Linked DNA regions of Homo sapiens. The protein of the gene in region 2 purifies or fractionates together with the protein of the main gene of each other region. This does not show direct contact. Each region holds a gene or a part of one and is shown on either strand. Other genes may lie near its edges. The genes, in order: LYZL1, XAGE3 and METAP1D.

Evidence for each region.
Region 1: the proteins of XAGE3 (region 2) and LYZL1 purify together in Homo sapiens (co-immunoprecipitation; one large-scale study listed by IntAct). This does not show direct contact.
Region 3: the proteins of XAGE3 (region 2) and METAP1D purify together in Homo sapiens (affinity purification with mass spectrometry; 2 studies listed by BioGRID and IntAct, with this or other methods). This does not show direct contact.

What each region holds. Positions count from the first base shown.
Region 1 is NC_000010.11:29,287,644-29,291,981, forward strand, and holds the start of LYZL1 (lysozyme-like protein 1 precursor), read left to right. Parts: upstream 1-1,426; 5' UTR 1,427-1,474; coding exon of another isoform or gene 1,475-1,587; intron 1,588-4,199; coding exon of another isoform or gene 4,200-4,224; coding exon 4,225-4,338.
Region 2 is NC_000023.11:52,862,027-52,865,237, reverse strand, and holds the end of XAGE3 (X antigen family member 3), read left to right. Parts: intron 1-337; coding exon 338-463; intron 464-2,597; coding exon 2,598-2,620; 3' UTR 2,621-2,710; downstream 2,711-3,211.
Region 3 is NC_000002.12:172,058,819-172,062,473, forward strand, and holds part of METAP1D (methionine aminopeptidase 1D, mitochondrial isoform 1 precursor), read left to right. Parts: intron 1-2,679; coding exon 2,680-2,837; intron 2,838-3,655. UniProt on the Homo sapiens protein: Removes the N-terminal methionine from nascent proteins. The N-terminal methionine is often cleaved when the second residue in the primary sequence is small and uncharged (Met-Ala-, Cys, Gly, Pro, Ser, Thr, or Val).

The DNA.
Region 1 (4,338 bases), on a different chromosome or scaffold from region 2:
GTCTGTCTTATAGTTGTCAGTATATATATCCTGCACATATTTTGTTAGGTTTAAATTTAAGTACTTCATTTGCATTTGTGTACTATTGTAAATGGATTTTTTTTTATTTCAAACTCTTATTTTCTATTCCTAGTATATAAGATTGTAAATGGCTTTTGTATATTTACGTCATATCTGAAAACTTGCTAAGCAAGCATTTTTGAAAAAGAAAAAGACAATCCGTCTCTATTTTCTCACTGGTAAGATCCCTATTTCAAAGCATTTTGAAAAAGATGTTTGAGGGAAAAACCTATACATTTTCTCATATTATAGACTGTTCACAAGAAGTCCACTAATGGCTTCTAAAGATAAAAAAGACCCTCAAGCAGCTTGAAATAACGAAAGTTGAAATTGAAACTCTGCTGAAAAATTATGTTTCATCTCTAATATTGAGAAATATTGAAACATTTGATAACACAGTGTGCTATCTTCCTGATACAAGCCCATGTGAAAGGCAATTTGGCAAATATCTAGCAAAATTACAAAATTATACCCTTTGATCCAGCAAGATATTCTTGTAAAGTTACAAATGACATATGTACAAAATTACTGGTTGTAATATGTTTACAATAGAAGAATAAAATAAGTGTGCATCAATATGAAATTGGCTAAGTATGCTATGTTGTATCTGTATAATGCAATACTATATGAACTTCAAAATAGATTTCAACAAAACCTTTGCATTATTGGCAGATGGAATTTAAGAAAATATAACGATTAGTTAGGTGCAGCCAACAATAAACTTCTACTTAGATCTACATATTCTAATGAGAATTCATTTCAAATGTGTCACTAAATCTGAACATTGAAATAAATAGACCTTGAAAACAGCCCTTTAGTTATTGATTCACAAAGTGTTAAGCCAAATTTTTCAAAAATAATAAAATCATGTTATTACAAAAATATTTTATTAATAATAATTTGACTATAGCAAATGTGCTGTTAATAAATTTTTAATGTTAATTTCACCTCTATGTCATTAATTTTCAAATTTTAGTTTTATGTATGTTGATAATTTATGTAGCATATTAGTACTGAGGTACAGAAGTATGATTTATAACTCAATGTACATCTAAAGAGGATACATGCTTAACTTTCTTTATTAATGGAATTTGTGATAAAGTTTGCAGACGCCTCAGAGAAGAGCTCTCACTTGGACAGGAGGCCCTGGCCAAGTTGTGTAATGAGGAGGGTTGTTGAGGGGAAAAGACAAAAAACAAGAGGTATTAAGCCCCAGAAGACAGTTATCACCTGCCTCAGAACACAAGCATGCAGGATGATACAGCTTTTAGTGCCAAGAAGTAGAATTCTAGCATCTCTAGGTGGTGAGAAACAAAGGATTAAGAATTTTTCTTTCTCTAACACTCTAAAGAAATGTTCTTGAGCTAGGAAAGGATTACTCGCGCCTCGTTAGAATCAGACATGGCTTCAGGGGATGCAGGACGCTCCCCTGAGCTGCCTGTCACCGACTAAGTGGAGCAGTGTTTCTTCCGCAGACTCAACTGAGAAGTCAGCCTCTGGGGCAGGCACCAGGAATCTGCCTTTTCAGTAAGACCTAAATTACTCTTATGAGAACCAGCAATGGCAGGTTCTTGAAGGATGTAGAACATGATGCTTGGGGTTATCATTGCTGCGGGTTTTCTTTGGACTTGTTTGAGATCAGTAAAATTCTAAGGCAGGGGATGGAAACCAACTCTATTTGTAAGCTCTGTATCTTTTTTTCTTTTTTCTTTTCTTTTTTTTTTTTTTTTTTAGACAGGGTCTCTCACTCTGCTGCCCAGGCTGGAGTGCAGTGTCACAATCATGGCTCACTATGGCCTCAAACTCCCAGCCTCAAGTGATCCTCCCACCTCAGCCTCCCCAGTAGCTGGGACCACAGGCACACACCACCATGCCTGGCTAATTTTTGTATATTTTGTAGAGGCAGGGTCTACCTTTGCTGCCCAGGCTAGTCTCAAACTCCTGGCTTCAAGCAATCTGCTCACCTCAGCCTCCCAAAGTGCTTGGATTACAGGTATCACCCACCATGCCTGGCCTTAGCTCTGCATCTTAAACCTCGTTTGTCTGTCCCTCACAGCTTAACACAGTGCTGTACACAGCGGACTGGCATGCTCTCTCTGAAAAGGGCCAGATAATAATATGTTAGGCTTTGTGGTCTATACGGCCTCAAACACAATTACTGAACTCTGCCACTGTAGTTGGAAATCAGCCACCAATGATATATTACCAAATGGGTGTAGCTATGTTTCAATAAAACTTTACATACAAAAGCGGGCCTGGTTTGCCCACGCTTGCTATTCACGTTTGTAATGTACATGCCCCTCATGCAATGCAGTTCCTTACCTTATTGCTTAGTCACCTTAAAGCCCTGCTTGTTACTTGGTGCGGTGGCCTTGCTGATGACTACTTATCCCTGTTTTGGGCCTAGCCTTTCAATGCAGGAATCCAGCCCCAGGGAGAGAAACTAATGACTGGAGAAGTTTCTAGGCAAGTGCAGAAAATGACACGGGATGAACATATGTAAGAACATCAAGTTCAGGATCCCGAGTAGTTGTCAGAAATTTCACTTCACCCCATCCCAGCAAGGCTGTTGTATTTGGGGAAGACATTATTTCAAGAGGGGAAGAGATTGTGGAAAATCAGTAGGCAGCAGGAGACAGCTCTCTTGATCCTACTCCCATTTCAGATGATTCCGCAGGGGTCTCTTTATTGCCCCTCTGCTCCCCCAGGTGCTTTCCTCCTTTCATGAGGCTTTGTCCTCCATCCCTCTTGCTCCCCAGTCAGGTGCCAGACTTTTAGGAGGCCCCCCGGAGCACTGGTGGTGAAGCTTAGCAAAGCAATGCATTTGCAATCTAAGATAAAACACTCATGTTTTGGGCTGGGCATGGTGGCTCACACCTGTTATCCCAGCACTTTGGGAGGCCGAGGTGGGCAGATCACAAGGTCAGGAGTTTGAAATGAGCCTGACCAACAGTGTGAAACCTCATCTATACTAGAAACACAAAAATTAGCCAGGTGTGGTGGTGGGCGCCTGTAATCCCAGCTACTCAGGAGGCTGAGGCAGGAGAATCGCTTGAACCTGGGAGGCAGAGTTTGGAGTGAGCCCAGATGGCGCCACTGCACTCCAGCCTGGACAACAGAGTGAGATTCCATCTCAAAAAATAAATAAATAAATAAAAGCACTGATACTTTGGAAGCAAAGCTCCCACATTTGGAACTGAATCAAGAAAAGAAAATGAAAGAGTAGGTGCTTAATCTTCACTCTTCGATAAACCCCCAAACAATAACCCTTAAAGTTTTCCATACAGGCCCACGTGTCTTTCATCTGTGGCTGAAATGGGCTGTCTGTTTCTACACATCCAGTTGATCCTTGAACAAATGTAGGGGTCACGGGCACCGACGCCTGCTCAGTTGAAAATCTGCATGTAACTTTTGACTCCCCAGAAACTTAACGACTCCATAGCCTACTGCTGACTGGAAGCCTTACTGATAACATAAATAGCCAATAAACACATATTTTTTATGTTCTATGTCTTCTGTACTGGATTCTTACAATAAAGTAAGCTAGAGAAATGAAATGTTATTCAGAAAAGAATAAGGAAGAGAAGATACATTTACTATTTGTTAAGTGGAAGTGGATCATCATAAAGGGCTTCATCCTGGTTGTCTTCACACTGAGCAGGCTGAGGTGGAGGAGGAAGAGGAGGGGTTGGTCTTGCTGTCTCGGGGTGGCAGAGGCAGAAGAAAATTCACGGATAAATGGACCCACGCAGTTCAAACCCATGTTGTTCAAGGGTCAGCAGTATAGGGAATGTTTCACCCCTGTATTCTATTTTTCATTCATAGAATTAAAATAGAAATCCTAAAAATGCCCCCTGTGGTTTTCACCTGGATGTGTATTAAGGAGGGTTAATTTTTTTGCTTGCTTAACCCTGAGAACACAGCATTGACTTGAAAGTTACTGTATGGAAAAGCATTAAGGAAACAGCCTTCAGTTGCCTTCCTTCCCTGGACCGTAGAGTGGCCGGTTTTCCCTGATGGTGGCACTGAATGACCAAAGTGACAGGCAGCATCTAGGCAGGGCTGTGCACAGTCACCACCGCTGGATTTCAAAGTTCCTGAACCAAGATCGTCTGACCTGTTCTCCGGCTCTTTGGCAGGTTCTGTCTCCGGCAGGCTTTGAGGATGAAGGCTGCGGGCATTCTGACCCTCATTGGCTGCCTGGTCACAGGCGCCGAGTCCAAAATCTACACTCGTTGCAAACTGGCAAAAATATTCTCGAGGGCTGGCCTGGACAAT
Region 2 (3,211 bases):
ATATTCATCTAATCTTTCAGAAAATTACATTTAAGTTATTATTAAAATGCTATCCATTGGGCAGTCTTTAGGTTTCCTAGATAGCTGACACTCACTGTTTATAGTACACAATGGTAAAGTATAGGAAATGTAAGTGTGGTCTGATTTTTCCTCAGATTGTCATTTAAGATAAGATTTCATAGTACAGGAAAACAAAGGTGGGACATCTTTGCATCACATTTATTACCACAGTCGCCTGCAGCCTTTTATTTCATAACATTGAGGAAAAGAATATTATCATTTCCTTCTTTATCTTTCTTGTTTGCCTGCTTCAATCGACAACCTTTGTATTTTTTAGTGCCTGACCTGGAAGCTGATCTCCAGGAGCTGTCTCAGTCAAAGACTGGGGGTGAATGTGGAAATGGTCCTGATGACCAGGGGAAGATTCTGCCAAAATCAGAACAATTTAAAATGCCAGAAGGAGGTATGCTATCCATTATTATGTGCTTTCTGTTTTCCACAATATTATACTTTTGATAATAAAAGAGAACATTACTATCCCTTTAAAATCAGAGTTCAAATGCAGACTTTTTTTGAAAGGTTGTTCAGACCCCAATTGCCTGACTGTAAGACTTAAACACTATCAGCTACAGACACAAATTGGGTCAAACCCACATTGAATCATCAAATATGAAAGCATATTCTTACTTCTGATTATACCCAACAACTAACAATTTTCAGATATTTTTCAATTTCTGCTTTTAACAAATACATAATGCATTTGTAATACCACTTTGTGTGAAATATCCTGAGCACCTTAAGCAGATTCTAATAACAGCTCTAACATTATTTGTGAGATTCTGGATGAATTCCATAAATTCTACAACCATCTTTTGCTGTTATTGAAAATAGTAAATGCATATCAGATGTATTAACATCTGTTTCAAAATTGATTTCTGTATCCTCATGTTCTGTTGGATAGAATACAAAGATATGATTTGTTTTTCATAACAATCAGTTTCGCTCCAGTTATAATATCTGAGTTGAGATTTCATGGTTCCTAAGAAAATGAGTGGGCAACTTGCTTCATGAAAGTATCTTTTCCACATATTTTCCAAATTGATGACTGTTAATCAGAAGAGCTTCTGAATTTATAGGAAGCATTCCATATTTATGGAAGAAATTGCCTAAATGGTTTTACTCTATACTGCTGAACCATTCCATTAGACTATTTACATGAAAGATAGTTTTCAATTATTTCCAGGAGCCCATTGAGCAATCCTCAATTGTATTCTTAGGAAGATAGTCTTAAGTGAGTATCTTGTTAAAATAGATAGAAAATTACACGAGAAAGGAAAATATTAATGAAAATTATAAAGAGCAATAGAATAAATCTAAGGGAAAAGGAAAGAGGTCCTTAATAAGAGACAGATATGAGTCATTAGTAAAAGGAAATGTAATCCAAAAGTAATACATTTAAAAGATTGTTCTTTTGAAAAATAGCTATGAATAGAGTAATAGTTTACACACTCTTGAAGAAAATGGAAAAAGCTCAACATGGAATATGAACAAGACCCTAACAGATACTGAATATATGGTATAATCGAAAGTGAATACATTCTTGAACTCTAGTATTTTCGAAGTATGAATGAAATGATTGATATGCTAGGAACACATACATTAGTTAATTTATTCCAGTAATACCTGAACATCTAAGCATCACAAAGAGTGTGGGAAAACTTCTGAAAGTTCCCACTTATCCCTCAAAAACACTTAACTTTTAGAAACAATTATTTGGCTTTTCCAGATGTCTTACTGTCCTTTTCTATTTTCCTCTCCCTCCATTTCTTTTTTTGCCCGACTATTCATGATATATGCCTCTTTCTCATTTTGATGTCAAAAATAATAGTGATAGATTAAACCAAATGTGACCATGTAATTTATTTTACCAATGGGAATACTTTCAAGTGTAAAAAGAGGGACTCTTCATATTGACATCAGGATGATAGGTGAAAATCTTGGACAAATGGTTACCGTACCTTAAAGACCACAGAAGGATGAACTAGCCCCAAGCAATATTTTTGGACTTCTGTGCAAAGAGAAAAAACAAATGCAGTACTGACCTTTCAATTCACTGCACTTTTGCAGTCCCTAATGTGACATAAATTGTTTCCCAGGAGCTTGTTGAACATCCAGACTATTATTTCAAGGCAAAACATTGCATTACATGATACATTGTTTGTAAATTCCTTTTGTTTCTTAGGTTTGTTGTGTGTTGGTCATATTTTTATTAAAACAATACACAATGTTTGCTTTTCACTTTGAGCCACCTTTTAATAGGTTCACTTGATTTAAAGTGCTCTGAAGTTAGACAGTTTTTGGTTTCCTTGAACTACAGAAGGCAGGATGTTTTAAAAATGTTGCTAATGTATATACTTGGAAGCCTATCTTCAAAGTCTCTACAGAGGTCTAACTGAATGTTAGCCATCAGGTTACTCTTAGGCTTCTGGTTTAATCCACGGTATAAAACCAAAACTTTGGTGTCCTTTGCCTACCTTTAATGTCATCTGAATACAGTTCTGCTACTAATGTTCCCTCCTGTTATATTTCTATTATAGGTGACAGGCAACCACAGGTTTAAATGAAGACAAGCTGAAACAACACAAAACTGTTTTTATCTAAGATATTTGACTTAAAAATATCGAAATAAACTTTTGCAGCTTTCTCCAAAGAAGTCTTGCACATTTTTTGTTCATTTTATTCCCAAATATTTGGTACTATTGAAAATGGTGGCCAGGTGTGGTGGCTCAAGCCTGTAATCCCAGCACTTTGGGATGCGGAGACAGGAGGATTTCTTGAGCTCAGGAAACTGACACCAGCTTGGGCAACATAGTGAGACCCCCTCACTGCAAAATAAATGAATGACTGCATGAATGCATGAATGTATGCATGTATATATGTAGCCTTAGTCCCAGCTACTCCTGAGGCTATGTTGAGAGGATCCCTTGAACTCAGGAGGTCGAGGATGTAGGTAGTTATGTTCAGGCCACTGCAACTCCAGCCTGGGTGACAGAGTGAGACTCTGTTTAAAAAAAGAAAAGGAAAAGTATCATTTTTGAAATTTTCTATTCTGATTACACTGGTACACACACTTGTGATATTATGAAATATATAAATATATATTTGGTCCTCTACCCTGTATACTGGCATACAACTCTTAATATTTTTAGAA
Region 3 (3,655 bases), on a different chromosome or scaffold from region 2:
TGAAACCTATCACCCTGAATCACTGATCATTGCGGTTTGTTTGCATCAGTGCCTTTCCCCAAGTCAATTAGAGATCCAGAGTTTTGAAGCCAGTACTTACCTGCAATTCACGTTTTCATTATGTTTCACAGCTGAAATGTTACTCTAGGCCAGTTCTCAAGCTTCGTGTGCGTCAGGATTACCTGAGGGCTGGTTAAGGCACAGATTGCCCGCCTCCATCACCAGTTTCTATGTTTGTAGGTCGATACGGGGCCCAAGAATTTGCATCTTTTTTCTTTTTCTTTCTTTCTTTCTTTTTTTTTTTTTCTGAGACAGAGTCTTGCTCTGTCACCCAGGCTGGAGTGCAGTGGCGCGATCTTGGCTCACTGCACCCTCTGCCTTCCGGGTTCGAGTAGTTCTCCTGCCTTAGCCTCCCGAGTAGCTGGGATTACAGGCGCGCGCCACCATGCCCGGCTAATTTTTGTATTTTTAGTAGAGACAAGGTGTGGGATTACAGGCGTGACCCACCGCACTCAGCCTTGCATCTTTTTTCTATGTGACATTATACTGCTGGTCTGTGAACCTCATTTTAAGGACTACTGCTCTAGACCAGGATTCAGCAAATGTCTCCTGTAGAGGGCCAAAGAGTACATTTTTTAGGCTCTGTGGAACATGTGTTCACAACTACTCAGCTACCACTGTAGCTCAAAATCCTCCATAGACATTTGTAAGCAAATGAGGGTAGCTATGGTCCAATGAACCTTTTATTTATGGGCACCAAGATTTGAATTTCATGTATTACAAAATATTGGGTTAAAAAGTTTTTTTCAACCATTTATAAATGTAAAAACCATTTTTAGGTTTTGTGCTGTATAAAAACAGTCAGCAGTCCAGATTTGGCCCTTGAGCTGTAGTTTTCTGACCCCTGCCATGTAGTTGTGACCTGTTGGGGACTTCTAAAACTATTGTTCTGGCCAGGCGCGGTGGCTACGCCCGTAATCCCAGCACTTTGGGAGACCAAGGCGGGCAGATTACGAGGTCAGGAGATTGAGACCAGCATGGCCAACATGGTGAAACCCCGTCTCTACTAAAAATACAAAAAAATTAGCCGGGCCTGGTGGTGCGCGCCTGCAGTCCCAGCTACTCTGGAGGCTGAGGCAGGAGAATTGCTTGGACCTGGGAGGCGGAGGTTGCAGTGAGCCAAGATCGCGCCACTGTACTCCAGCCTGGGCGACTGAGTGAGACTCCGTCTCAAAAAAAAGAAACCAAAAAACAAAAAACAAAAAAAAGATTGTTCTAAATATGAAAGTAATAAAATGAATCAAAATGTCTTCCTGGCTGGATGCAGTAGCTCACGCCTGTAACCTCAACACTTTGGGAGGCCGAGGTGGGAGGATCGCTTGAGCCCAGGAGTTTAAAACCAGCCTGGGCCACATAGCAGGACCCCATCTCTACAAAAAATACAAAAATTAGCCAGGCATGGTAGCATGTGCCTGTGGTTCCAGCTACTCAAGAGGCTGAAGTGGGAGGATTCCTTGAGCCTGGGAATCCAAGGCTGCAGTGAACCATGATCGCACCACTGTTGCCTTAGCCTGGGCGACAGAGCAAGACCCTGTCTCAAAAAAAAAAAAAAAAAAAAAGTCTTCCTCTCTACCTCTAGCCCCAACCACAAGCCACAGAAAGAGCCACTGTTTACAAATATCAATTTCCAGAAATTTTATGAGCACGTGCAAGCTTATATAAATGTATAAGCTCCTTTTACATTAATGGGCTTTTTATATGTATTTGTTAAGCATTCACTTTTTTCCTAACAGTGTATTGTGACCTCTTTCCATATCAACACATAGAGATGATGATTTAGCCTATTCTTTTTAATAGCTCCAGAATTTTCTGTAAGTATACCATAATATATTTAATCAGTCCCCTACTGGTATTTCCTATTTGGAAACATTTGAGTTGTTTCCCACTTTCTTCTACCACAAATAATGCTGCCATGAGGGTACATCTTCATTCATCCATCAGTGCATAGTGTCTGCAGGATAAAGTCCTAGGAGATGAACTGCTGAGTCAAAGGATATGTGCATTTAAAATTTTGATAGACATTTCTAAATTCCTGTTGTGAGTACTTCAAACCCTATATTCATTTTCTTTCAGTGTTATACTTACATTTTTGCTATTTAGTCTTTATCTGACTTGAACATTCATCACAATGAATTTCAGTATAATGCCTCACTGCACGTGAACTTAACACAGAGTAGTAATCCTATGGAGGGCAAAAAGTGCAGCTGGCAATTTGTCCGTGATTCTTGAAAGGAAACGGCTTTACAGAGTATAAAGCCATCAAAACAGTGCCCTGAATCTAGGGTCGTCTTGGACATTGCCACATAAGGTATTACAGCAGAAATTGTTCTTTTTACAGACCTGGTGCTTAGCAGATGTTTCTATATGTTTGTTTCCCGTTAGAGTAGAGTTTTCCATTGTCACGCATTTATGTAAACATAGTATTAGCTAATAAATACGCTGTGTTACTATTGTACTAGAATTCAGAATACCACTGTTTTCATTTCTATTTGGGGCTTTTCCTTTTTCAGTCAATAAGGTATTAGAATAATGATTTAATAGACAACACCACAACATCTTAAAGTGGAGGACTGTGTTAGGTTGTTTTTTTACTTAAAATATGTCTGTTTCTGCTCACAGGTTCTCATAGAATTTTCTCTTCACCACTCAATCATATCTACTTACACAAGCAGTCAAGCAGTCAACAAAGAAGAAATTTCTTTTTTCGGAGACAAAGAGATATTTCACACAGTATAGTTTTGCCGGCTGCAGTTTCTTCAGCTCATCCGGTTCCTAAGGTACTGTATTGCCTATTATCTCCTGCTTTTTCCAGCCAAGATAAAAGTTGACTGCAGAAGTGATCAAATATTTTTGCACCTTTGATTTCTGAGCCATTTGGGTTTTAATTTTCAAACTAGGTTTGTGATCTAAAACTGTGATTTGAGAAGTTTTAATATCCTGCAATTCTATAGCATTAATTTTTTAAAACAAAGCTCTAAGCTTTCAATTGCTTAGAGTATTTAGAATTAAAATTTTTAACATGAAATTTTCTATATTAAATTTCTAACATGAAGATAAAACTATACGTATGTAGTTTTCTAACTGTTTTAGAGAAAAAAAATTGACTATAAAATTGTGATGATTCAAAAGAGATTACTTAAAACTAACATACTAGATTTTTTTAAGCCTGTTCTTACATTTTCCTTGTTATTGATGCTGGTGTCTTTGAATTGTCTTTTAGACTAAATTAAATAAAATATGTCTCAGAGCAGTCTTGGCTTTTTTTTTTCAGAGATTGCAATTCTGTGGAAAGGCAATCTATCCATTTTTCAAAATGCAATATAAAGGGAGTGTGCGAGTGAGCCCTTTAGGAAGAAGGAGAGTAGCTAAAGAAATATAGATTGGTCACAAAAATCATCTGCTTTCTCCCTTTTATGAACTTTGTTTACAGCGAGCCCATATTTAGTATGTTATACTTCTGAAGGTGAGTGGCCCACTTTTATGGCAAAGGCCAGTGACACAGAAGGGCCACCAGGATGTATCCCCTGGCCTGGCCATCACAGTGAGAGTGAGAATTTGGTATTAGTTACAAAACTGACACTTTTTTCCTTAGAAG